Linked DNA regions of Homo sapiens: region 1 is linked to region 2. Evidence: fine-mapped expression QTL. Tissue or cell type: tibial nerve. Region 2 holds a variant in brackets; the other region holds the start of a gene. All regions are shown on one strand. Distances are from middle to middle.

What was found. PIP is the estimated chance that this variant, and not a neighbour inherited with it, causes the effect.
Region 1: PALMD starts here. The variant in region 2 is fine-mapped to the expression of PALMD in tibial nerve (GTEx, PIP 0.94).

What each region holds. Positions count from the first base shown.
Region 1 is chr1:99,639,431-99,652,456 of GRCh38, reverse strand. PALMD (palmdelphin) reads right to left here and starts at 6,344. Exons shown (of 8, transcript NM_017734.5): 1 at 6,095-6,344. The coding sequence starts at 6,139.
Region 2 is chr1:99,595,684-99,608,709 of GRCh38, reverse strand. No RefSeq gene overlaps it. Among named protein-coding and RNA genes, the nearest start is that of PALMD, 44 kb to the left of the region's middle. RefSeq lists a silencer at 7,623-7,917. The variant C/T (reference allele first, on the strand shown) is at 8,172.

The DNA of each region.
Region 1 (13,026 bases), 44 kb before region 2:
AATTTTTGTATTTTTAGTAGAGACAGGGTTTCACCATGTTGGCCAGGCTGGTTTTGAACTCCTGGCCTTAAGTGATCCGCCTGCCTCAACCTCCCAAAGTGCTGGGATTATAGACATGAGCTACCATGCCCAGCCAGAAATCTACGGAAGTCCTGAACAGGGGTCAGGGGTGTGATGTTGATGTTTATAAAAATTTGTCATGATGCTGTGGTCAGAAAATCTGATGAGCAGAGGAATAGATTCAAGTTCCGACATTTGACTAATTCCTTAGCTTTTCTTGGCCTAGGCTTTCTGCCATAAAATGGGAATGATAACATATGCTTTTGAAAATACTCATAGGACTACTTGGACAAATGAGATAAAATGGATGTGAAAGTTTTATTTTTCATAGCCTAAATGCTATGTAAGAATAGGCACTGTTATTATTGTTAGAAATCTCACAATTCTTTTTCTTAGGAGATGTCCATTTTATTCCAGAGTTGTTAGCGTAATTGATTAGGAATAGCTGTTGTAGCCCACTTTGCTATGTTACATCATCCTGTGTCAATCACTGATACATTTAATAGATTGAAAACTTGATGCTTAGGACAGAAGCTAGTTTTGAGTTCCATTCAGAACTCCTGAGGATAACCTAGCTCTACCTCTTAAGTGGCTTGACTGAATCCTCTCAGTCCCTGGGATTTTATGTAAAAACTTTAAGTATAGATCTCATTCAAACTGCTTTGATGATGTTTTAGGAAAATGTGCATGCCACAGGGTTCTGGGTAAGGGAACTTCTTAAGGTGGTAAATTTTCATGGAGTCTCTTCCCAAAATGACATTACTATCATTTAAATAAATTAAAATATTCTTATTTCTTTTTAAGAGAGGGTAGGTAGTTAGAGACTGCAGATTAAAAAGTGGAAGTCCTATTGCAGTTTTAGAATTGAACTGTGTTGCATTTGTTTATACTCTGGTTAGTCTTAGATGCTTATTCTCTAATTTGTTTTAATCACAGTTTTCTAAAGAAGCAGCTTTTCCTTTCAACCATCCAGTAATGTTCAGAAAGTTCATGGGGATCTTTGTCAGTAGAGGAGTTAGCAAAGTAGCATTATCATTTTGTTGCACAGTGGAAAAACCTTCCCCAGTTATCAAAAAGCAGTTTCCTTAATGAGCTATCAAAACTATTATACCTCATCACATGGTGTCCTTTATGGGTGGGCTGTTATGTTTGGCAAAGAAGTGTGGCGTACCACATTTGTTTGAAGAAACCTTTCCCTCTCTGGAAGAAACATGTAATCTTGGTACAGCACTGTGGAAAATTGTGCTGAGGTTTCATTGTTGAATATTCCAGAATGGGACTTTTTTATTTAGAAGACTGCTACATCTTCATGTACCATCTTCATGTGAATTTCTTTGGAAGCTCCTGACAAATTAGAAGTTGTTCCTCTAACTATGTCTTAATCATGAGGTATGTTGGTTAACAATGGGGCATTATGCATTCTTTGGCCACTAGTACTTTAAGAATTCCTTAGAGCTCTAAATAATACAATGATCCAAACACGTGTTAGGGTATGCCTTTGTTAAAGACACAGACTAGTTTACACTTGTTTTTACTCTCTTATTTGTTCAGATAGAACGAATAAGGAAAAATATGTATGGCCAGTCTGGAATACAGAAGCAGGGCTGACTTCTTGGGTTTGTGACCTGTGAAGTCACCCAGGTCATCATGCTCAGAAGGGCCTAGCACTTAGATCAAAGCTCTGTTGTCACCACCTTGACATTTTGAATATTTTTTGAACAAGGGCCACCACAATTCCCTTGTGTTTTGGGCCCCACAAATCACACAGCAGGTCTTGCTTTTGGGTCACTAACTGTCTTACTGACTGTTAGAAGAGCCCAGATATTGACAAAAAGGGAACAAGATGAGGTAGAGTGCCCAGAGACACTTGTAACAGGGAACATGTGCTAAAGAAATAACTAGAACCCATCCGTGCTCATGTTCTTGTTTTAATGTTGGTCTTTGTACTGTGGAGATTTCTGTTTTATGTAAAGAACTCCATGTCTCTTAAATTCCTATATTTACAAGTCAAGAAAAATTTATTTGGGTATTTGGGAGTGGAAAGCAGTAGGGAGTTGATCAGGGGAAATGTGAGAGCTTTTTTTTTTTTTTTTTTTTTTTTTTTTTTTTTTCATTATGAGCAGCTTTGGCCGGCAAAATCTGGCTCTGTTGCTCAAATTCCAGTGTCAGGACTTTATATGGCTCCTTTCCAAATGGAGGCAGTCCTAGGCAGGTGCTTGTACTTGTGATTATTTTTATTGTCTAACTTTTGACAGAACTCACCTCCTTCACATCTAGGCTCAAACGTCACCCTCTTTGTGAACCCCATCCTGACCACTCTATTTTAACTTACAATGCACTCCCATCCCCACTCCTCACATTCCAGACTCCCCTTATTTCACTTCTTTTCATTTAAATGCACAAGGCTTGGTGCATAGTAGGTGCCTAATAACCATTAATTGAATAAAGGCATGAGAGACTGTGTTGATAACACACATTCCTTACAGTTAAAGGTAAGCCTGGAGGAGAATAAAAATGTCAGCTTTCTTCTTACTCTCTTTTTCTCAGTTGAGTCTGTTCTCTGAAATTGGATTCTAGTTCTTAAACTTCCTCTGAGTTCATCCTTCAAATAGAACTGAGTCTATGATCGCAAGACAGTTTAAGATCTAATTTTCCAGTTTGAGCATATCCATATTTGTAATGGTATTTTCCAATGTCGCTGTAGGCATGGGGGTAAGAAAATGTATTAGCTGTGGAGGAGATGTTAAGAGTATACGGAATGTTACTCATCCTAAGGGAATCTTTGTGTTTCTGAGGAGAGACCCCTGGGCCTTTTCGTTGTTCTTCAGTGTGGGCCACGTTCACTTTCAGACAGTAACTCTGTAGGGATAACTCTGTCAGTGGTACGTTCAGTCCTTCATCTCACGCTTCTTCATCTCACTCTTCTCGAGAATGCTGGAGTCATTGGTATCCTCAGTTCCAGTATTGTTAAAGGTGAATTTCAAATTACTAGTCTATTTCAAAATACTATTGAATTCCAATTAGCTCACCTTTTGTAGAAAGATCAGCTATTTGTTCAAGTGTGTACTGACTTGAAAAGGGCCTCAAGAGACATTTTAAAGATCAAACATAATAGTTAATTAATTTTAAGCAGCCCTGTGTTTAAATTATAGTTGAAAACTGAACTTCTAGGCAAAGGGGTACTTTGACCATTAATTTAGTAAGGGAAGAGTTGGTGCATGGATAAAGTATTAAGGAAGAACATGAAAGTAATTGTGTAAAATAGAATCTATATTTGGTATACCCAAACTGAAGTATCTACCCTTGAACAATTGTTTCTGCATACTTTCATAATTTTGCTCTTATTCTCTTTAAATCTTTGAGAAGACATCTGACTAATCTAAAATTCAATTTACTGATCTGATATGAGAAATGAATGGCATCACGATAGTAATTTAGTTTTCAATTTGAGAGCCTAAGTGTCACATTTCAACTACTTAATGTGTTTAACCTTTTTTTTTTTTTTTTTGAGAAAAAGAAAAAGACTGGCACTTGGATCTTTGTTCTGTCAAATTCTAGGTATATACGTTTATTTTTTCAGTTCTTTGCAGTGAAAAATAATGACTTTTTAGGCACTTGAAACCAGGTAGAATAAATACAACTGTGAAGATTATTTTATTTTATAGCCAGCAATTGGAGAAACGAATTTTAATGTAAAAAGCAAATAGATCCTAGAGTGTAAAAGTTTTTTTTTTTTCCTCCAAAGTGAGGTCTATGTGTTGCTATGTCTGGGTGCATTGGGGAATTGCCTTCTGATTTCATTCTTGAAGTATACAAAAAATTATTTCAGTGTAGGTAAGTACTAGGAAAAAGCTAAAATGAGAAGATACTCTCTGAGTTTTAGTCTAGGTTGGAGATTCTGAGGCTTAAGCATTTCCAAAAATGAAATAATTCTTGCAAACTCTCTGCATACTCTGTGATTTTATTTTCCTAGGGGGAAAGAGACTAGCTGAGGTGGCTTCCTGGGCAAGGCAAGGGCGAGGGCGAGGAAAGCTGGCGTGTCCCAGGGCGTCCAAGAGGGAGGAGAGTGGATGTGTTGTTTCCATGGACACACCACTGCTCCACTTTTCCTCTAGGTGGTGACAAATGTGACTGGATTTAGCCTGGTGAGGTGTAGGCTGGTTTATGAGAAATTTGTTCCCATAAACTTTTTCCAGTTTTTTCCCTACAACCTTTATACAAGTATATTACTTCCAAGCTAGAATTACTTTGTGATCTTACTTGGGAGATTTGTTTAATCCTTTCTAATGGGATATATTTAGGCTGATGGAATAATCCAAAAATTTTTTTAATCATCAAAAAAGCATACATCTGCATATTCAGGAAGCTACTTACTCTCTTGATGGCTTTTAAGACATTATGAGGATTTTCTGTCTCTATTTGCGTTTGGAACCTTCAGTGACTAAGATTCCTAGCCTTAGAAATAACTGTATACAGCCATATCTTTGGAACATGTGTGGCTTTGGTAAGAGTTATAAGGTACACTGGAGGGAAAAAGGGCTTGAGCGAGGGTGTCCCCCAACTGAAAGAGGCAAATTCAGAACAAGGGTCTACTTGTCTATTTCAATTAGCTAATTAGGAGATATAAGCATTAGAAATAGTGGAGCCTGTGACCACACAACTCACGCAGTCTAATAAAGTAACCTTTAGACAACAGCTGTAATGTAAAAGGCCCATGCCAAAAACAACAGAGCAGAGCCGAGTTCCTGTCCCTTAAAGCAGGACAGCTGAGATGGTGGCTGAGTTTAATGACAAAAAAGGACAAAACAAAACAAACAATAATCCCGACCAAGGTTTTCTGAAGAGAGGAAAATGTAATAATTAGAAGCTAGACATTTAACAAAGCATTGTTTTATGGAAAAGTGCCAACCTTATCAATAGACTTCTGGTGTCTTACTATTGGCTAAGAAGACATTTCAATTTACTGAATGTTTCCTGGGTGAAACTAAGATATTGTATCAATTAGTAAAAAATCTAAATTAGGATTAGCATAATTAGTTATGCAATGAAAATTTTAAGAACAACAACAAAAAATCCCTGATCTAGCATCAGTTTTTAAAAAGTACTCATTTTTTTCCTATACCTAATGTCAGTGGCAGAAAATGCTGAGAAATTGGGATATTGCTTTCCAAAGATCTTTTTCTTCTTAAAACAATTACATCAAAAGTTATAGCTAGGGATAAATGATTGTGACACAGATTTCCAAGTTACTGCCAAATACAGGGTTTTATAAAATTAAAAAGAAAGCTGGATCATTTAAGAAAAGTAATTTATTTCTGGCTTTGACTTTTTCCCGGAACAAACATAAAAAATGTACGATTTTCCTTCTCGGTATTAACAAAATATTTTCCAAATCCACTGCATGCACTGCATTCCTTTATCAGGATCTTATTCAGTTTGTGACTCTGCTGGAAACTGATATCTTAGAATTAATCTGATACGTGCTTTTACCTAGTTTTCTCTTGTTTAATGCTTAAATTACGTATATTAACATTCATTTTAATTATTTTAGGCTTTCTGGAACATGCTACCACACTACAAATATAAAGTTTCAGGTCATTTTTAAAATTTCTTTTTCTCTCTTTAAAAAAAATTCTAACTTTTTGAGGCATTCATAGCTTAAAAAAGTTTCCAAGTTGGGGATCTGTTTTTTTATCTAATGCCAGTCAAATGGACATTTAAGGAAAAACTGCATTTCTAAGGTACACCACAGAGTGTGAAAGATAGTTAATCAGACTGCCTTAACAGCTTTTGATTGTTGTTTAAAATGCAGGCACAGCCTTTTTGAAAATCAAGAACGTTTGCCCTGCACTCAGGTTCTGAAGCCCCAGAGTTACAGAGGGTCATGAGGGTTAAGAGAGAAACAGAGACTCGTCCATGAAGGCTGACAGTTCTGTTTTTCCACTTGCGAGGGCTCAGCGACAGGGGCAGCCGGCCACGGTCTGCCTTCCTCTAAGTAACAACGTTAATGAGTTATAACTGTATGCAGACTTACTGTGATGGCCTGGAGTCTTCCCTTCACCAGCTCAGCTTCTTCCATTCTAGAAGTCAAGGACAGTCAGACGGGGAAGCAAGTCCAAAGCTACCATAAATCAAGGAGCCTCCTGGGGGAGAGGAGCGGGGGTGACAGAAGAGAAGCAGGGAGAAATCCGCTCTTTGCACCAGTGGAGAAATAGAGAAATTCCCGACTTGTCAGGAGCGTCTCCGAGCAGATGCACAGATCAGGCCAGACAGACACATGTAATGAGGGTGTGCTGGGGAGGCAGACGCTGAGGCTGCTGGCATGAGTTGACTGACAAGTTTGAACGGCAGCGGCACAAGCCCTTTTCCTTCAGGAGCTGCCAGCTCTTTGTTGTAATGTGCACAGTTAGCAAGGCACATTTTCTTATTAACTGTTCCTTACCCAATTCATTATTTTCCAGGAGTGGCACAGAGAGCCAACACACTGAGTGTTTAATCAGCCTCTGCTCTAGCAACACACAGCCATCCCCGGATGTGTTGGTCTGTGTGTGTTTGTACAAAGCTCGTTTACCTGCTTGCTAGCTCTAGGGGAGAGAGCCTTACCTTGACTGAGGCAGAAGTGCCAAGTCACTTGTTTGCCTTTCTTCCACTGATTGGATTTGATAATAATACAACAATCTATAGCTACTTTAAACTTCATGTAGTGGTAAATTTACATTGGTTCGTTCTCCCCCGTCTACACCCCACCCCCGACCCCCCTGCTCAGCACTTTGTTGCAAACTTTGGAATCTTTAGGTCATGGAGAAATCAAAGGTGTTAATGTGACTATATTAAGAAGTTGGCCCACCAAGGTATTTAGTGTGGCTTAAGCACCAAGTGCCACCTTTTGTTATTGCTTGACTTGGATTTCTATGGAATGCAGTTTTCTTTCTTGGACGCTGTTCAGAAATGACACTCTTGGCTTTCAGGAAGGTGCCCATTTTGACCTCACCGGTTACGCAAGAGAGAGGAGTGAGCCTTTGAAAATGTGATGAGACATTTGGTAACTGCCTGGAGCCCGGCACTGTGTGAATATTCGCCCATCCTTTAGAAAAAGGCAGGCAAGCCCAGTGAGACTCTTAGGTCAAAGCAGAGGCTGGGAAGCTGTACAATTGGCTCTGTCTGTTTTCTTTTCCCTACAGGTTCTTTAATTAAATTTTGCTGAAGTAAATCCTAATTACCAACTACCTTATTATTATGTGTTTGAATGCTATTAAGCGCTTTCATATCAACATTCAGCTGAAGAGGTTAAAAGGACAACCCAAACATTGAACATATGGTTTAATTTCCTTTGCAGTTTTGATATTAGTAATAATAATAGCTAATATTTGTTGCATTCTTTCTACAGGTAAATGCATACTTGCAAAGTGCTGAGAGATAAGTGCTATAATCCCTACTTTAAAAATGAGGGAACAGGCTCAGAGAGGTAATTTGCCATATAGCTAGTAAGTAGCAAAGCCAGGATTGGAACACCAGCTGCCTGACTTTATAAGTGGCATTCATCAAGGACTGCCCAAGGACACGGGGCAAGGAGAGGCACAGGCTGAAGGTTAAGTCAGTCTTTATGAGAAGTGGTTGGACCCCCAGCCTCCTTCTCTGTCTAGCTCCTAGAACACTACAGCTGGGTGTAACAGCCTAAGGCAGAACGGTGTGGGAATGTCCTCTGGAGAAACTTATTGGCCCTACTGAGGTTTCCCCACATTGTTGACTGGAGTTCCCCAACCACAGAGCCCTCATTCTGTCAGTCACTATAAGGTGAAACCCATGTTTTAAGAGTCTGAAATTATACTTGAGAGTAGTTTGTCCTTGCTCATACACCCTCAGAAGGGATACTTAGGGAGACCAGAGAATGGGAGGATTGTTTGGATGTGTGCCAAGTTTGATTACTGTTGGAAACATATTTAAGTGTAAAAAAAATCAAACCTTCAAGACTTCTGATTATGTTTATTTGTAGATCCTGGCTGAAATTAAAGACAAGAAAGCAGTAATGATAAATATCTCAGTCAGAATTGCATATTTGGTGCCTAGAACAAATGGGCAGTCATCCAATTATTAGTCTGGATCTTTTCCTAAAAACAATTTACCTCTCAAATCTCATTTCTGCTAGAGGAAAACCCAAGATTTTGCTAGTGTAGGGGAGGACAAGATTTAAAAAAAGAGGATGGGAATTTAGGAGGGAGCAGAGTTGCAACAACTGATTGGTATCATCATGTGAGTGGTAGGCAGAAAAGGCTGGAGCTGGGAAAATCTGGGGGACCTGAGTGGAATCCTGGAGCCAGAGCTCTGATGGTCTTGACAATCTCCCTTGGACTGCAATACAGATTAGGATGTTTCCACTCAACTTCGCCTCCCTTTCTCTTTCACCTGCCTCTTAGACATGTCCAGCTCCAGCCTTTTCTGCCTGTCCTCCCATGTTCTCTCATACAGTCATTTCTCCTAATAAAATTCTGTACATTTAACCCATCTTGGCATTTGTTTCTTATAGGATCCAGAATAACATCATCATTTCCACATCTACTGTATTTTGTTTACTTAATCTTTTATTGTCTACCAGAATGTAAGTTCCAGGAGAGGAGAAATTTTGTTCAGACACCTAACACAGTGCCTGACACATCAGAGGTTCTCAATAAATATGTGCAGAATGAATAACAAATGCTTAAAAAATTAACAAGTATTAGTATTGTCAACTAAATGAATGAATAAACACATGATGAGACACATCAGTTGTCAGCAACCAAAGTAGTCCAGTGTTTCTCAGGAATTTTAGCATTCTTGCCATGCTCAGTCACTGGCTGGGAGTAGCCCCTGGGAAGCATAGCCTTGAAGCAAACATAGGAATGGATTTCAGAGTGAAACAGCTTGGGACTCTTGGGTCAATTATGCTCCTGGAGTTCAATGTCTGAGAGGCACTTTCTCATCAGCCATAGTGATAAATGCTATGGAAAGAAAATAGAGCAGGGAGGAGAATAAAGATGGCTAAGGCAGGGAATGTTGCAATTTAGAATTGGGTCACTAAGGTAGCCTCAGTGAGAAGGCAATATTTGAGCAAGGTCTTGAAGAAGAGGTGAGAGTTCGTGATGAGGATATTTATGGGAAAAGCATATCAGGAAGGGCCTGTGCAAATGTCCTGTGGTGGGCCATACCTGCCATGTTTTATGAACAAGGCTAGTGTGGTTAGAGAGCTGGGACTAAGAGAGGGTTAACAGGAAATTTGGTTGGAAATGTAACAGGTCCCAATTCATGCAGGGTCCAGTAGGCCATTGTAAGGACTTTAGCTTTTAGTCTGTGTGGGATGAGAAGGCATTGAGGTGTTTTAAGCAGAGGAGTGTTTTGCAAGTGTGAAACAGGAAGACTAGATAGGATGTTATTACAGTAATCCAGATGAGAGATGATGGTGGCTTGTGTCAAGGTGGTAACAATGAGAGTGTTACCACCTTGGTTGTACCATGGTTGTACCATGGATAACTTTTGATTCTGTTGGTGGATTGGATATAGGGGTTTAAGAGAAAGAGAGGATTCATAATCACTCTTTGCCTGAGTGAATAGAAGTCGCCATCAATTGAGATAGTGAGGTTGATGAACTAGGTTTTTTTTTTTTTTTTCTTTTGAGGGAGAGGATGGATACCAAGTTTTGGAAAAGTCAATTGGTTCTCCACATGGAGATGTTGAGTAGGCAATTGGATATACGAATTTGGAGTTCAGGAAAGAAGTCTCAGGTGGATTTATAAAATTTATTGTAACTACGGAAGGATCACAAAACATCCAGAATTATAGTTCAAAAAGCAGTATATGTTAGCGAACTAGCTTCCATTAAATATTAACCTTATATTAATGACCAAATTCAGCCTTTGTAAAATAGATATATAATAGAGCACTATCTGCTGTCATTTATCTTATTGAACTACTTTTACCAAGTATTTTTGTTGTTTTCCAGCCAGTGTAAACGAGGATGGCAAGAGTTAAAAGTTACAGTCAATTAGTTGACATTATATTAGGAGGTAGGGATATAAGCGATTATGAGACAGTGCTCCTTCTTACAATGAATTTACTGTCTGGCTGGAGAGATAAGACGCGTGCTCAAAACAATTAGAAGACAAAAGAATAGTAAACCAACCGTTGTTGTATTCCGATGAAACAAAGTGCTAACTATTGCACAATTTGAGCCCAGAAAAGTATATCATAGTGAATGATAGTAGTGTGTGGGATTAGCAGTGAGTGCAACATGAATTGAAAATTGAGGTTAATGTGAGTTGCAGGAAAGCGACTGCAGGGAGAAAGTAGACTTTAGAAGCAGAGAAGCCATTTCTAAGCATGAGAGGGGGTGAAACAATGTGTTAGAGGTCCATAAGGGAGAGTGTCCTGTCTGGAGCAGAAAGGAGAAATTAGAGAGATTGATAGAGATATACATTTATACATAGAACTTGATGTTCAGGGAAAGTGGGAGAGAAAAGATCAGATTCATATTTTAGGGAAATAAAACTGCCAACTGTCTCAGAACATATAGAAGGAGGGAAAATTCAGGTAAAGAGATCCATCAGGAAGGGTGACTATGAAAGAGTCTGTAGAAAGAGCCTGTAGAAGGAAACTAAAAAATTGCTGATGTTCCACAAAAGGAAAGGTCCCCAGTGTTCTTCCTCACCTTCAGAAGGTCTGAACTCAGAGACCACAAACTGGATGAACATGAAGGACAAAGTAAGTAGAGGAGAAGTGTTTAAGGTGCTAATACAAATGTGTTAGAATCCAAGGGGGATGGCAATGGGAATGACCAATAAGGAAGAAATCTACAAGAAATTTCAATAAGAGTGTTCAACTGGAGAGAAGGATGAGAATTTGATAGGTTCCAAATGAAGTACAAAATAGGAGCTTGAATTGGAAATTTCAGATAGAAAATCACAAAGAAATGAAATCTAATGAAATAGTGGCAGGAGAAAATTGAAGGATGCCGAAGGCAGGATGTATATGTTGAAAACATCTCTAGAGCCTTTTTGAAACCAGATCCCGTGTTAAAAAACTGGATGCTCATTCTCCTTCTCACTCTTCTCTCTTTCTTTCTCTCTCTTTTTCTTCCCGTCTTTCTCTCTTTATAACTTCTCAGACTTCTGGAGGCCAGAAGTAGTGTCACGCTAAGAATACGGTGTTTATTTTTTATACGACATCTCTGAAGGAACCATTAGAAAAATCTTCACTTTCAGATTTACCATGTGCTAATGAGTGTGTTTCTATTTTCTTTTGTTTAATCCTTGACCCTTATTCTCTCACATCACTGGACAAGGTGAGTTTTTCATCGACCTTTTATTCTTTAGTAGACCATTGGAAGGGATTTAATTGCCATAGGCAAGTAACAAATAGTATGTGAGTAGGTTGACCACATAAATCAAATTAAAAAATCTGACCACATAAATCAAATAAAAATTATTTTGATTTGTTGGTACTATAACATACCCATTTCATTGTGAGGTAATTTGAGCTTTATGGTTTAAAGAGTAAATGAGGAAAAAATAGTAGGCTTCAAGACAATCTACAGTACAGATGCTTATCTTACTTGAACTCTCCATGACACTGGGCAGAGTTAATCTCTCCTTCTCTCTTCACTTGGCTTCCAGGACACCTCTCTTGATTTTATTTCCATGTCATTAGTCTCTCCCTCTCAGCCTTCTTTGCTGGTTCTTTCTCCTTTTCTCAATGTCTTAAAATTGCAGTGCACTAAAGCTGCAGTTGTTGGTGATCTTTTCTTTTCTATTCCTTTCCAGTCACTCTCAAGATCTCATTTACTCTCATTTTAATGCCATTTAGATGCTAAGATTCATGCATTTATTTATATCTCCAGCCTAGACTTCTCTTCTGTGCTGGAACTCCCTTACCTTAGAAATCTGTATGCCTCATTCTCTCACCTTCTTAGGTCTTTGCCGAGATGCTACCTTCTCAATGAGGCTACCTTGACTACACTATACAAAACCACAAATCCCTCTTTCTGAAACTACGAATCCTCCTCATCTCGCTCTATTTTTTTTTTTTTACCTTTGTCATGTTCTGTAATACTATATGACACACTTTTCTGGGGGGTTTATTGCCTGTCTTCTTTCACTAGAATGCAAACTCCATGCAGAGAAGGTCTATTTTTTATCTGTAGTCTAAGTACTTAGAGCAGACTGGTACATAGTGGACACAACAGATAATTGTTGAATGGTAATCATTGTGATCCATTTGATTGCACAATATGTGTCAAATGCCTTATAGGCCTACTTAATGGATTGGGGAAACTGACATTCAAAAAGATTAACTAATCTACCAATGGGTGATATATCTAATAAGCAGTAAAACCAGGATTTAAATCTAGAACTGTCTGGACAAAAGGTTCCATCTTTATTCACCATACTATCCTACCTCTATTTTTTCCTTAGTTGCAATGAGACACCACAGCACAAGGTTTAACCAGACGTAGAATACAATATTATGCATGATTCACAAATTCAATCATTTCGATGATTTGTGGAATTGATTTTTAAGACTGGAAACAGTTTACAACCACTTTTTGACATTTGCTTAAAGATTAGAATATAACATTTTGTAAGCAAACAGAGTCCACAATCACTTTTTCTTTGAAATTTGCTTGAAGCTTAGACTATAATTTTTTGTAAGCAAAGTATTCCAGAGATAGACCACTACAAAAAAAATTCTACTTGCATGTAATCAAATAGTGTGTGTGGTTAAGCATGCTGCTGTCTCTTTAAACAGCTATGCAGTGCTTTCCAGCTAAGTCTCCTAGAGGTCAAACAACTGCTCCATTTAGTGGAAAAGGATATTTAACTAAACCAATTGACTTTTTAGAGATAAAAGGTGCAGCTGTTTTCTGAACACAGCCTAAGTTATCTAATATCCTATCAAAAATAACCACAGATAAAAAATAACCTATTACCAAACCAAGCA
Region 2 (13,026 bases):
AAGGACTCCTTAGTCGATAATTGGTGCTGGGATAACTGGCTAGCCATACACAGAAGAATGAAACTAGTCCCTTACCTTTCACCATATACAAAAATTAACTCAAGATAAAGATTTAAATGTCAGACCTCAAATGATAAGAATCCTAGAAGAAAACCTAGGAAATACCCTTCTTGACATCAGTCTTGGCAAAGAATTTTTAGCTAAGTCACCAAAAGCAATTGCAACAAAAGCAAAAATCGACAAGTGGGACCTAACTAAACTAAAGAGCTTTTACACAGCAAAAGAAAGTATCAACAGCATAAACAGACAACCTACAGAATGGGAGAACATATCTGAAAACTATGCATTTGACAGAAGTCTAATATCCAGAATCTATAAGGAACTTAAACCAATCAACAATCAAAAACAAATAACCCTATTAAAAAATGGGCAAAGAACACGAACAGACACTTCTCAAAAGAAGAGATTCATGTCGTCAACAAGCACATGAAAAAAAATACTCATCATCATTAATCATCAGGGAAATGCAAATCAAAATCATGAGATACCATCTCACACTAGTCAGAATGGCTATTATTAAAAAGTCAAAAAACAACAGATACTGGCAAAGCTGCAGAGAAAAGGAAATGCTTTAACTCTGTTGGTGGAAATGTCAATTAGTTCAGCCACTGTGGAAAGCAGTTTGGAGATTTCTTACAAACTTAAAACAGAGCTACAATTTAACCCAGCAATCCCATTACTTGGTCTATACCCAAAAGAAAATAGATCATATACCAAAAAGACACATATACTTGTATGTTCATTGCCTCACCATTCACAATAGCAAAGATAATGGAATCAACTTAGATGCCCATCAGTGGTTGATTGGATAAAGAAAATAAGGTACATATATACCATGGAATACTATACAGCCATAAAAAAGAATGAAATCATGTCCTTTGCATCACTATGGATGCAGCTGGAGGGCATAATCCTAAGTGAACTAATGCAGGAACAGAAAACCAAATACCTTATGTTCTCACTTAAAAGTGGGAGCTAAATGTTGAGCACACATTGACATAAACATGAGAACAAAAGACGCTAAAGACTACTAGAAGGGGAAGAGAGGGAGGGAGCATGGGTTGAAAACTACCTAGTGGGTACTGTGCTCACTACCTGTCTGCAATATACACATGTAACAAACCAACACACATACCCCATATGCAAAATAGAATTTGAATTTCTTAAAAAAAGTAATAAATGACATGAAAAATTGGAAATAAATAAACAATGGAAACTTCATACAAAAAAACCCCAAATACATACACAGAAGGAGCAAACCAAAACCAAATAGGAAATATTTTGATGTGTATATATTATACATATGATAATATACATACATTATCTGGCTCTGCCACAGTGAAAATCTAGAAGCAGTCACACCCAGGAGAGACAAGCACTCCAGTGAACAGATCTTGGTTTATAAATATGATTTTCCAATTTAATGAACCAGGGGTCCTTGGATAAATGGCTGGTTCTAGAACTGGGAAAAAAAATTCAAGATGGTCCTGGAGCATCTTGTAGTACCAAAAAGTAAGGATGTGCTAAAAGAAATTTAAGAATGGGAGCATATCAATACAATGCAGTAGTCAAACTGAAGGAATGCCCAATGTCCAAAGCTGGACTCATCTGAGCAACAAAATAAGTAGCATAATTTAGAAATGTAATATGAAATAGAAAATAAATTTATGGATAAATCCATACATATATACGAATACATATGTATGAATATGTATGAATACATATGTATGTATGAATATACATGAATATATATGTACATACATATGAATATACATGAATATATATGTACATACATATGAATATACATGAATATATATGTATGAATGTATCCATACATTCATTTTCTATTTCATATATATGAATGTATCTATAAATTTATGTATATCTATTTATATATATATCAGTATAAGAATAGATAAATATGATTGAATAATAAATAGGGGAGAAGAGACAAATCTTCCTGACAGAAAAATTTCAAATAATTTATGTAGATGAAACTTCCTTTCCCCTTTTTGAATGTTGTTAGACTTACAGCTTTGCTTTCAAAGAATAGAGTAGGAATTGGGAAAAATGGTGACTTTACAGTGGAGAAACCCAGCAAACTATCTTAACCGTGTGACCAAGGTTGACATCACCAGTGATGTTATATGCATATCATGTTCCCCTAATATGTGTAATGAGGACACTTCACTTCTGTGGCATTCTTTCCCAAAACACATAATCCCAGTCTAGTGATGAGAAAAGCATTATCATACAAAATCAATTCTAAGGACACTCTACAAAATCCATAATCAATACTCTAAAAACTCTCAAGGTGGTGAAAAATAAGGACGCTCTGAGAAACTGTCACAGACCAGAGGACATTAAAGTGACAGTGACATGATAACTAAACACATGTGGCTCCCTGGATTGGGTACTGGAATAGAAAAAGAATGCTACTGGGAAAATTAATTCAAGTCCAAGAAATGTCTGGAGTTTACCTTGTAGCAATGTACTAATGTTGACTTTTGACAAATGTACCATGGAAAAAGTATGATGGTAACATTAGGAAAAACTAAAACTGGGTAAAGAGTATATAAGAACTCTCTGTTACTATCTTCACAACTTTTCTGTAAACCTAAAAATATTTCAAAAGTAAAAAGTTTATTTTTAAAACAGCCCTGATGTTAGAATCTTCATTAATTACTTAGTGAATTCATTCAACACATAGCAACGGAAAACTTGCTGTCCCTAGTCACTGCTATAATAATGGTTATTAGCAAGTCAGATGCCATCCCTATCTTTCCAGAGCTTACAGTTTACTGGTAGATAAAGATAACAGGGATGTTCAAAATTATTTGATAAGTGCTTTGAGAAAGTGCCAGAGGTTTTAAAAATATTTTTCTCCTACATTTAAATTAACAAATCTGGCATGTTAAATAGATCTTGGAGCATAGTAAACATATTAGTCCTCAAATAATACTTCTCCTGAATATTTTCCATATCAGATAATCCTTAAACTCTGAACAATTTGCCAGGCATTGTTTTAGATTTTTTATTAGAGAAATTTGAGAATATTCTTTAGTTTAGTTCATTATACTTTGCTCAGTGATATGGTTTGGCTCTGTGTCCCCACCCAAATCTCACCTTAAATTGCGATAATCCCCATGTGTCATGGGAGTGACCTGGTGGGAGGTAATTGAATTATGGGGGCGGATTTTTTCTTGTGCTGTTCTCATGATAGTGAACAAGTCTCACCAGACCTGATGGTTCTATATCCCCTGCACATGCCCTCTTGCTTGCCACCACGTAAGATGTGCCTTTGCTTCTCCTTTATCTTCTGCCACAATTGTGAGGCCTCCCCAGCCATGTAGAACTGTGAGTCCATTAAAACTCTTTACTTATAAATTACTCAGTCTTGGGTATGTCTTTATTAGCACTGTGAGAACAGACTAGTACACTCAGCAAGGAATTATTTTCTTACAAAGTACAGAACTGTTTCCCTTTTCATGTAAAAAATGAAAAGTTAAGGCCGGGCGCGGTTGCTCACGCCTGTAATCCCAGCACTTTGGGAGGCTGAGGCGGGCAGATCATGAGGTCAGGAGATCGAGACCATCCTGGCTAACACGGTGAAACCCCGTTTCTACTAAAAATACAAAAAAAATTAGCTGGGCGTAGTGGCGGGCACCTGTAGTCCCAGCTACTCAGGAGGCTGAGGCAGGAGAATGGCGAGAACCCGGGAGGCGGAGCTTGCCGTGAGCCGAGATTTCGCCACTGCACTCCAGCCTGGGCGACTGAGCAAGACTCTGTCTCAAAAAAAAAAAAAGAAAAGTTAAACTAGATAATTCTTAAAATATCTTTCAATTTTAAACGTCATTGAGCTTTGTCAATTATGTCGTATTTTCTTGGCTGTTTATTAGATCAGTAGGAAGGTTTACTTATTGATCACGTAAAAACAAACATCATATTTTTCTTTCATCATCAAGATTCCTATTTCTTCAGTTTATTTCAGGTAGAAAAGTGTATTCCAAAGAAGGAAGATATTCCCATAGTGAAAAAGGAAAATACATATATTCCCTGAGGCAGGCAATACTTTTCAAAAGAATGAGAAGTCTTTTTACCATCATTAAAAGTCTGGGACCCAAAATGCAGACCACTAGAATCACAAATTCTGCACTTGCCAAGCCTAGTCAGTTTTCCTTAGCTCAAAAACCTCAGGAATGGGCATCTTAAAAGGAAATACTTTTTGTGGATTTGCAAAGTCTCACTGCAAAGAAATTCACCTCAGTTTGAAAGATCTTGTGGGATTAAAAGTCAAGATTCATTTGGGAATGCTGGCTGGTAGACATTTCATGTCTCTCTTTTGCTGAGAAGTAATCTCACAAAGAATTTATAGTCTATGACTGCATATAAAGGTGGCTTCTTTGAGGGGCCCACATTTGTATGTACTTTGAGAGGAGAGGATGGGAGCTGAATATAAAACACTGTGGCTGATTTCAACATCTGCTCCTATAGTTACAGAGAACCAGAGGCTGGACTCTAAAACACGAATGGAAGGTCACAAGCCAGAAGTTTCTGAGAATGTGTTGGGGAAGGAGTGGGTTGGGAAAATAGCTGTATTTCCTCTAAAGAAAAAAAGATATCTCTTTGAAGTCTGGGTATTTGGTAAATTTAAAAAAAAAAAGAATAAAAGACAATAGAAAAGGTATCACTAATGGGGTAGAAGGAACAAAACACTAAAATTGAAACCAAAACCAAATCACCCAAACCAAATAAAATTCCTTTCAGTGGAAGCACACTTGTGTAATACCACACTTTTAAAAATGACCTCTCTTCTGGATTATTTCATTAGCCTCCTATTTTACCTTTCTGCCACCAATTTCTCCCACCTTCAGTTTATTCTGCAAACTACTTTCTGAATGGTCTTTCTAAGACATTTTAGTGACAATGTAACCATAGCCTTCATGATCAAAAACTTTCAATGGCTCCTCATTGTCGCATGAAGAAAATCCAGATATTTCAGTTTTGATTTTCAAGTCTTTAGATGATTAGCCAAATCCATCATCCGTAAAATGAAATCAATATATAGAAATTTATAGGTTATCTCAGCAGTGTAGGTCAGTTACGTAACTAAATAATTTTTAAATGGTTAAAAATAGTGGGCTGGGCGTGGTGGCTCATGCCTGTAATCCTACCATTTTGGGAGGCCGAGGCAGGTGGATCATCTAGGTCAGGAGTTCGAGACCAGCCTGGCCAACATGGCTAAACCTCATCTCTACTAAAAGTACCAAAAAAAAAAAAAAAATAGCCAGGCGTGGTGGCACACACCTGTAATCCCAGCTACTTGGGAGGCTGAGGAAGGAAAATTGCTTGAACCCAGGAGGTGGAGGTTGCAGTGAGCAGAGATTGTGCCACTGCACTCCAGCCTATGTGAAGGGAACAAGACTCCATCTCAAAAAAAGAAAAAAAATAGTGTTTTCCTTTATATCTATCTATCTGTCTATCTAATCCATCAATTATCTATTTTATACCAGTACTAATTAGTACCTGGGGTGGATATAAATGTGGGGTATGAATTGTCCCATTTCTAATGTGATACTGATTTACCTATGCAAGTGGTTTTGATTTTAGTTACCTTGACTAAGACACGCTAAGTAAATAAATTGAATATCCAAAAATAAACCATGCTTTTACTATTTCTTAGGCCTTAAATCAATCTTGGCCATATTAACAAGAATGTTTTTGGTGTCTGCTATATATTTTCAGGAGCTTTTGTAAATACTTGGTCTAATTTAATCTCATAATCTTCAAAAGTCTGTTGAGCAAACCCTGAAAACATCCACTTCCAGTCTGGTTAATTAGAAAACAATTAGGTTCTAACAAGGCTTTTGCTTCCTTACTCTGTTTACCAGCACAGTTTCAACATCCTTCCATTGATATGAAATGTGCAGAGACATAATTTTTTTCTTTTTCTTTTTAATCTTGATTCTGGAAGCCCTGGTAGAATAGTTAAGGAAATTCTTAACAGCAAACAGGGGAAGTCTTTTATTTTCTTTGGGTTTTGATGGTACACAAATTAACTTGTTTCCTCTACTGTGATGGGAATTCAGAAAAGGGAACCTATTGGAAATGTGAACATTCCTATTCTTCCTGACTCTTAAATTTCATTAGAAAACTTTACATCACATAACTTTTACTAAGAGGAGACTGGAGGCAGTGTTTACCAAGAACGTTTGTTAATGTGGAGCTAAAAAACAACATAGAATCACTAGCCACTTGGATAATGAACACTGCAAACATCATTGTTTATAGAAATGGTGTAATGCTAGGATAGAATTTAAGTTCTAGCTCAGGTTGCCATTGAAAGAAGAGTACAAATATTTGCCGAGCACCTACTATGTGTCAGGCATTGAGTAAGGCTTTTTTCATATTTTTACATTTTTTAAATTTAAAATTTTTATTTTAAAAAGATAGAGATAGGGTCTTGCATGTTGCTCAGGCTGGTCTCAAATTCCTGGCCTCAAGCAATCCTCCCACCTTGGCCTCCCAAGTGCTGGGATCACAGGCGTGAACCACTGCACCTGGCCTTTTTTTTTTTTTTTCATATTTCTTCTCATTTAATTCTCAGTGCAACCGTGTGGCTGGACATTTTTTCAATCTAAATTATTAGAGATAAGGAAATTGAGAGTTAGGGAACTTTAGTAACATGTCAAAGGTCGCACATGTGTTAATTGCAGGGCTTAGTTTAGAAACCACTTTAGTTTGATGTGAAACTAGAAACATTTCCACTATAGCACACTATCTTCATGCATGTTTTTACACCCATCAGAGTCCAGTTTCCTACTAACCTTGACCTGTTTTGCAAGGATGAATGGGCTAATGAATTACTAATTGTAAAATATGCTTATAATTTTAAAGAACATGTAACTATTGAAAGAAAAATCATGACATTTTATAGTTAACTTCTCAGTTTCTTTTCTTTATATAGTCCCAGGATAATATATGAAACTATCTGTGTTCTCTCTTTCATAGCATAAATTAATGGAGAGCAAAGGCCTTTCTTTGCAAACATTTTCTAACACAGTTAACCCATGCTTCCCTGCTGCTAACTTCTCTCAAACGTTTAGATTCATGGGGACATAAAGGCCAAACTGCTGTCTTATTAAATTCTTCTTTTCATAAGAATATGCAAGATGCAAATGAGCAAAATGTTAAAGCTCTATAAAGAGCATCTCTGGATTTTATAGCCCTGCTTCCGAAGAGTGTGTCTATGGGATATCAAGTGAAGAAATAGGAGCATGCATAATTGCATATGTAATTGGGCTGCAATTTTGCAGTGTATAATACAAAATACATATACATTTATAGATGAAAGACCTGAAATAAATATGCCAAAATGTGAGCCATGACCACCTGTAGGTGAAGATCTATAGGGCAATTGCATTTCGTTTTTCAAATGTTTTTATGCATTTTAAAAATAAAAATATGTTTCTTCTATTACCAGAAGAATGCAATACATTTCATCCATATTTTAAAAAGACACATTGTTTTGAAAGCAGTTCTGGTTTCGTGTGAGGGTGAGAATATCCTCAAATGGAAACAATTTTGTTTGCTAGGGAATTCAGCTTTAAAACAGGAGCAAGGCATTTGTCTCTTTGATGCCATGGCAACCCCTGGGAAAACGCAGAGTCCAACAATGGGATAAAAATGTGCCTCAAGAGTGGGTAAGAAGGAGGCAACCTTGGACTTCTTTTTCCTCCACTTTCCCTTGAACAGAAGGTTGCATTGTGTTTTTCCAGCTGACTTTGCTTTCCAGCTAGGCTGCTGTGAGAGGAAAGAGCAAACAATAAGAAGAACCTTTTTCTCATGGAGTTTTGGGCTCTCCGAAAAATTGTGCACTTTCTCAGCGGAGAAAAAGCTCAGTTTCTTTTCTCTGTCTTCCCCTCTCCTTGACATCTCCCAATTCAGTCATTTTTATTACAAGTTTCTCAATCCCCTTTACATTTTCCCCTCAGGATACGCCACTTGTCTTCTTCGGAGCTGTAGGGCTGGATTGATCTTTTCTCTATGGTCACTGTTTTCTTCTATGGTCTTTTCTCTATGGTCACTCTTTCTTGATAGAAAGACTCCTG[C/T]AGTCTTTTTCAGATCTCAATCCTTAATGCATCTCTGTTGGTCTCCAATGATTTGGCTGTCTGAGACTCTTTTTTTTTTTTTAAGATTTTTTTAACCTAATTTTATTCCTTAGGTAAATTGAACTCCCCCAAGCCACTGAAGATTGCTAAGGGTCTTCATTTTGGCAATATAGATCCAAATATTGTGATAACAGAGGTTACCAAAGGACTTTGTCTCCATTATATAGGTAAGTAATGATGATGCCAAGCTTTTTCTGTGGTCTGTGCCATGTTTCCTTCTAACATGACAGCAGCATCAATACAGCAAGAATAGTTTACCTTGGTGCTGGGTTTTACATTAAGATCCTGTGTGTTTGGACTTAAAAACTTTAGTCCACTTAGAAGCTACCAGCAACCTGAGCAAGAGGCCCTGTAGTTTTACGCCTCAAACCAGCGTAAGCACTGCTTTTCAACTAATACAAAGAAAAGGAATTGGGGAGGGAGGTCTTTCGAGTAACCATGGAAGTGACTTTAAAGAATTGCAGGTTGTCATTTTGGCAACCAGAGGTGCAGTCTTCAGAGTGGAGGACTCTGTGTGGCAGAGCCAGGCCTTGACCCAGTGTGACCCCCTGATATCGGGAACCACAAGAGACTTGTGCAGCTGCCTGGCCTCCAACCGGCCTGGGAGGCTGGCCATTCCAGGAAACTAGCAGTGATGGTATCATTCCTAGGAGCATGATTCACCCAAGAAGAATGAAAACTTTAGAGCCATGAAGGCTGACTGTGGAGGATGGAAGGCTCATCTCATTCATCTTTCTTTCCTGAGCACCCATCAGTAAATATTGCCTTAAGTGAGATGTGCAAATTCCAGCTGCTGCTCAGAACTGATGGTTGTATGGCCTGTAGAAAATGTCTTCATTTCTTTAATAATTTTTTGCAGCCTACATAAATTTTCTTTTTTCCCGGATTGGCCCTTGTGCAAAAAAAACATTGCTTCCCACAGTTATAAGCCATTATAAATGATGTGTACTACTTCCTTAATTTCCCATCATTTGGAGTCTAGTGAGGAGACACAGATTAGTAGATAAGGTCAAATTCAACTCAATAAAAGTTGGGGGTCACTTCAGTCCTGAGTCAGGTACCAGCCTGGCCCAGCGGAGCTTAGTATGAAAGTACTTTATGAGGTTGAACATTTGTATGGTATTGTATAGCATGTTTAAAAAGCCTATCACATAGATGATCTCATTTGACTTTCACTGTAAGTAAAACCAAGGTATCAGTACTGGTATCAGTGATGAACAGACTCATATGGGTTCAGGAGCTCTCTCATGATGTCCCTCTGCCAGCTGGACAGGGTCCAGGGGCCTCAGAAAAACCATATTCTTCAGTTTATGTGGGATATTGCACATTTCTAGGACTGTGAGTGTTGATGAGAGGGTAGGGGTGTGTGTACTTGGGAAGGAAACGCATAATTCAGGTGTTCCTGAACAAATTGTGATCTAGATGGAGTCCAGCCTTTTTGAATCTGGCTACAATGCTAGTGAACTGTCCCAGGTTAAAGGAATTTGGATCAACCCCTGGTATCAATTTGGCACCAGGTTTGATATATAGTAGAGGGAGCTGTTTAACAAGCCATGTTCTTCATCCTGTTGATAAGGGAGAAACAGGAGAATATGAAGTCATGTAAGGGAGTGTGAGTTGTCCAAAGCTGAAACAATTTCATTTGCTGAAGTGATCTGAGGATTAGCATGTCTTTCTATAATACACAAATATATTTAGCACAGTGCTTGGCACTTAGTAGGTACTCAATACATGTTAATAAGGTATTATGGTAATAAATAATAGATTATGCATGGTCCTGTTATGGTTTTTTAAAGTTTTTTCCTTAGTCTTGAGTTCTGATTCCTATATTGCTTTTGGATGCCAGGTTATTCTATGTGCTTATTTGGTTCTTGATGTACTAGTTATGCAATAAAATCTGTTGAAGGAATAAATGAAAGAAGGAAGGCTTGCAGTGACACTTTGTATTTACTTCTAAGGCAATGTTGACATTCTCTATTCCAGAAGAACTAAAAATGATTCACATTCATTGGTGTCAAAATTTCCACATATTTATAATTTCCATTATATTAGGTTGGTGCAGGTGTAATTGTGGTTTTTGCCAATATTAAATATAATAGTGTTAATCAATTAATTTAATATTAAAATGTTAAAATAATCAGTATTTTTTTCTTCTCTTCTTTTTTTCCTTCTTGATAGACTTTCTTGTGCAGTCCTTAAAAAGTAGGACAATTCTACTTTTTAAATTGGCACTTTTGAAAGTTATTTCATTGAGTATTTACGTATTAGTAGACTGCTTGGTTCAACTTCTTACAGTTGACGTAAATTTTGGCCCAGAACTCATGTGTGAAAAAAATTAATTTTGTTTATTTTCTGTCTGATGATAAAAATTTTAAGTGATATTTCCACCAGGAGTTGGAAAACTTAATCTCTATCAGTTAGTATTTTACTCCTTCTAATTCTTTTTTTATTTTATTTTATTTTATTATTATTATACTTTAAGTTTTAGGGTACATGTGCACAATGTGCAGGTTAGTTACATATGTATACATGTGCCATGCTGGTGCGCTGCACCCATTAACTCGTCATTTAGCATTAGGTATATCTCCTAATGCTATCCCTCCCCCCTCCCCCCACCCCACAACAGTCCCCAGAGTGTGATGTTCCCCTTCCTGTGTCCATGTGTTCTCATTGTTCAATTCCCACCTATAAGTGAGAACATGCGGTGTTTGGTTTTTTTGGTCTCCTTCTAATTCTTGATTTGAAATCTAAATTTGGGGGATATTTTGGAGGCAAGAGGTCAAGTGCAGTGGAGTGAATTCCTGGTCTGGACATGCGGGCATCTGCCAGGAATCCTTAGGCCTGTCTGCTTCCTGACCATCGGTCCACACAACACAGATTGCTCTGACATCTTCCCATCCTGAATCTGATGCTTTTATGTGGCCAGCTCCCTTCATTACTTGGATGCACCTTCTGGGTACAAAGGCAACATTTAGCTCTTCTTACACTTCTTTGGGACACAGAGAATTCTGCCAGTTCCTTTTGCTTAAGCACTCCACAGAACTATCTCTTCTCCACTATTACTTTACTAAGTTGGTGACAGAAGCATTTTAGCTCTTGATACCTCTGCAGGATATCCCTCCTCCAGAGTGTGAAGATACTCTTTGCTCTTGAATCTACCAAACCAATCTGGGTTTCTGTGAATTCCACCATCACAGGGGACTCAACTCAGGGAGGGAAGAGAACAGTTCTTCTTCTGAAGGACATGCCATTGCCACTGCCTCCTCTCCAGCTCTTCCTTCCCAACTAATCTGGCTATGAAGATTTATCTCATCTGTGGTTTCAGGTGGAGGAAGAGGGTGATGTTCTGGACAGGGATGTCTGGAATTATGCTGAATTCTTCAAAAACTTCTGTGATGCCTTGAGTTCCAAAGAGTCTCAGGTTGCAACTTCAAGGCCAAGATTTTGATTCTCAGAGCTTTACAGTTGTCAAATGCTGACAACTCTTTAAGGTTCACTAGGTTCCATTGGGTCAGCCAATGTTATTTTTTACCAAGCACTTATTATGCGCCAAGTAAAAGGAGAAATAGGACAGAGCTAAACTAAAAGACCCAAAGTCTTTCATAATTGCATAGAGGTGGGTATTCAACTTAATAATTATGTACTGATATGGTTTGGCTGTGTGCCCACCCAAATCTCATCTTCAGTTGTAGCTCCCATAATTCCCATGTGCTGTGGGAGGGACTCAGTGGGAGATAATTGCATCACTGGGATGGTTTCTCCCATACTGTTCTCATGGTAGTGAATAAGTCTCACGAGATCTGATGGTTTTACAAGGGGAAATCCTTTTTGCTTGGCTCTCATTCTCTTTTTGCCAGCTGCCATGTAAGACATCCCTTTGTTCTTCTTTCATCTTCTGCCATGATTGTGAGGCCTCCCCAGCTATGTGGAACTCTGAGTCAATTAAATCTTTTTCCTTTATAAATTACCCAGTCTTGGGTATGTCTTTATATACAGCATGCAAATGGACTAATACACATATTGAGCATTTTCTATTTATCAAGAACATGGCCGGGCATGATGGCTCATGCCTGTAATCCCACCACTTTGGGAGGCCAAGGTGAGCTTGAACTTGAGTTCAAGCATTTGAGACCAGGCGTCCTCATGCCCACCTGGTCCCTGGTCATTAGTCCACACAACACAGATTGCTGTGCCATCTTCCCCTCCTGAATCTGAAGCCTTTTATGAAGCCAGCTTCCTGGTGAAACCCATGCAAAAATTTGATTCTACAAAAAATACAAAAATTAGCTGGGTGTGGACTACATCTGTAGTCCCAGCTACTCGGGAGGCTGAGGTGGGAGGATTGCTTGATCCTGGGAGATCAAGACTGCCGTGAACTGTGACCGCTCTACTGCCCTCCAGCCTGGGCAACAGATAAAGCCTCTGTCTCAAAAAAAAAAAAAAAAAAAAAAAAAAAAAAAAAAAAAAAAAAAAAGAAGGTACTGACAGTGTATCAGTGAACAAGACAAATACTTAGACAAAAATGTGGTTAAAAGCTTGAGCTCTGGAGTCAGATGGCTAGTTTAAAGGGGTCTTTTGTGATCTTAACTGTCTGAGCCTCAGTGGGCACATGTGTAAGGGAAGAATAGTAATAATATCCATTTTATGGATTGTAATGAGGATTTAACTGTGATAATATTAATATATATGAAATATTGAGGGCAGCACATAACACAATATGCATTTAATAAGTGTTGGTTATAATAACAGATATCTTATGTGGGCTGGCTCAACATCTCTTCCAAACTCTACTGTG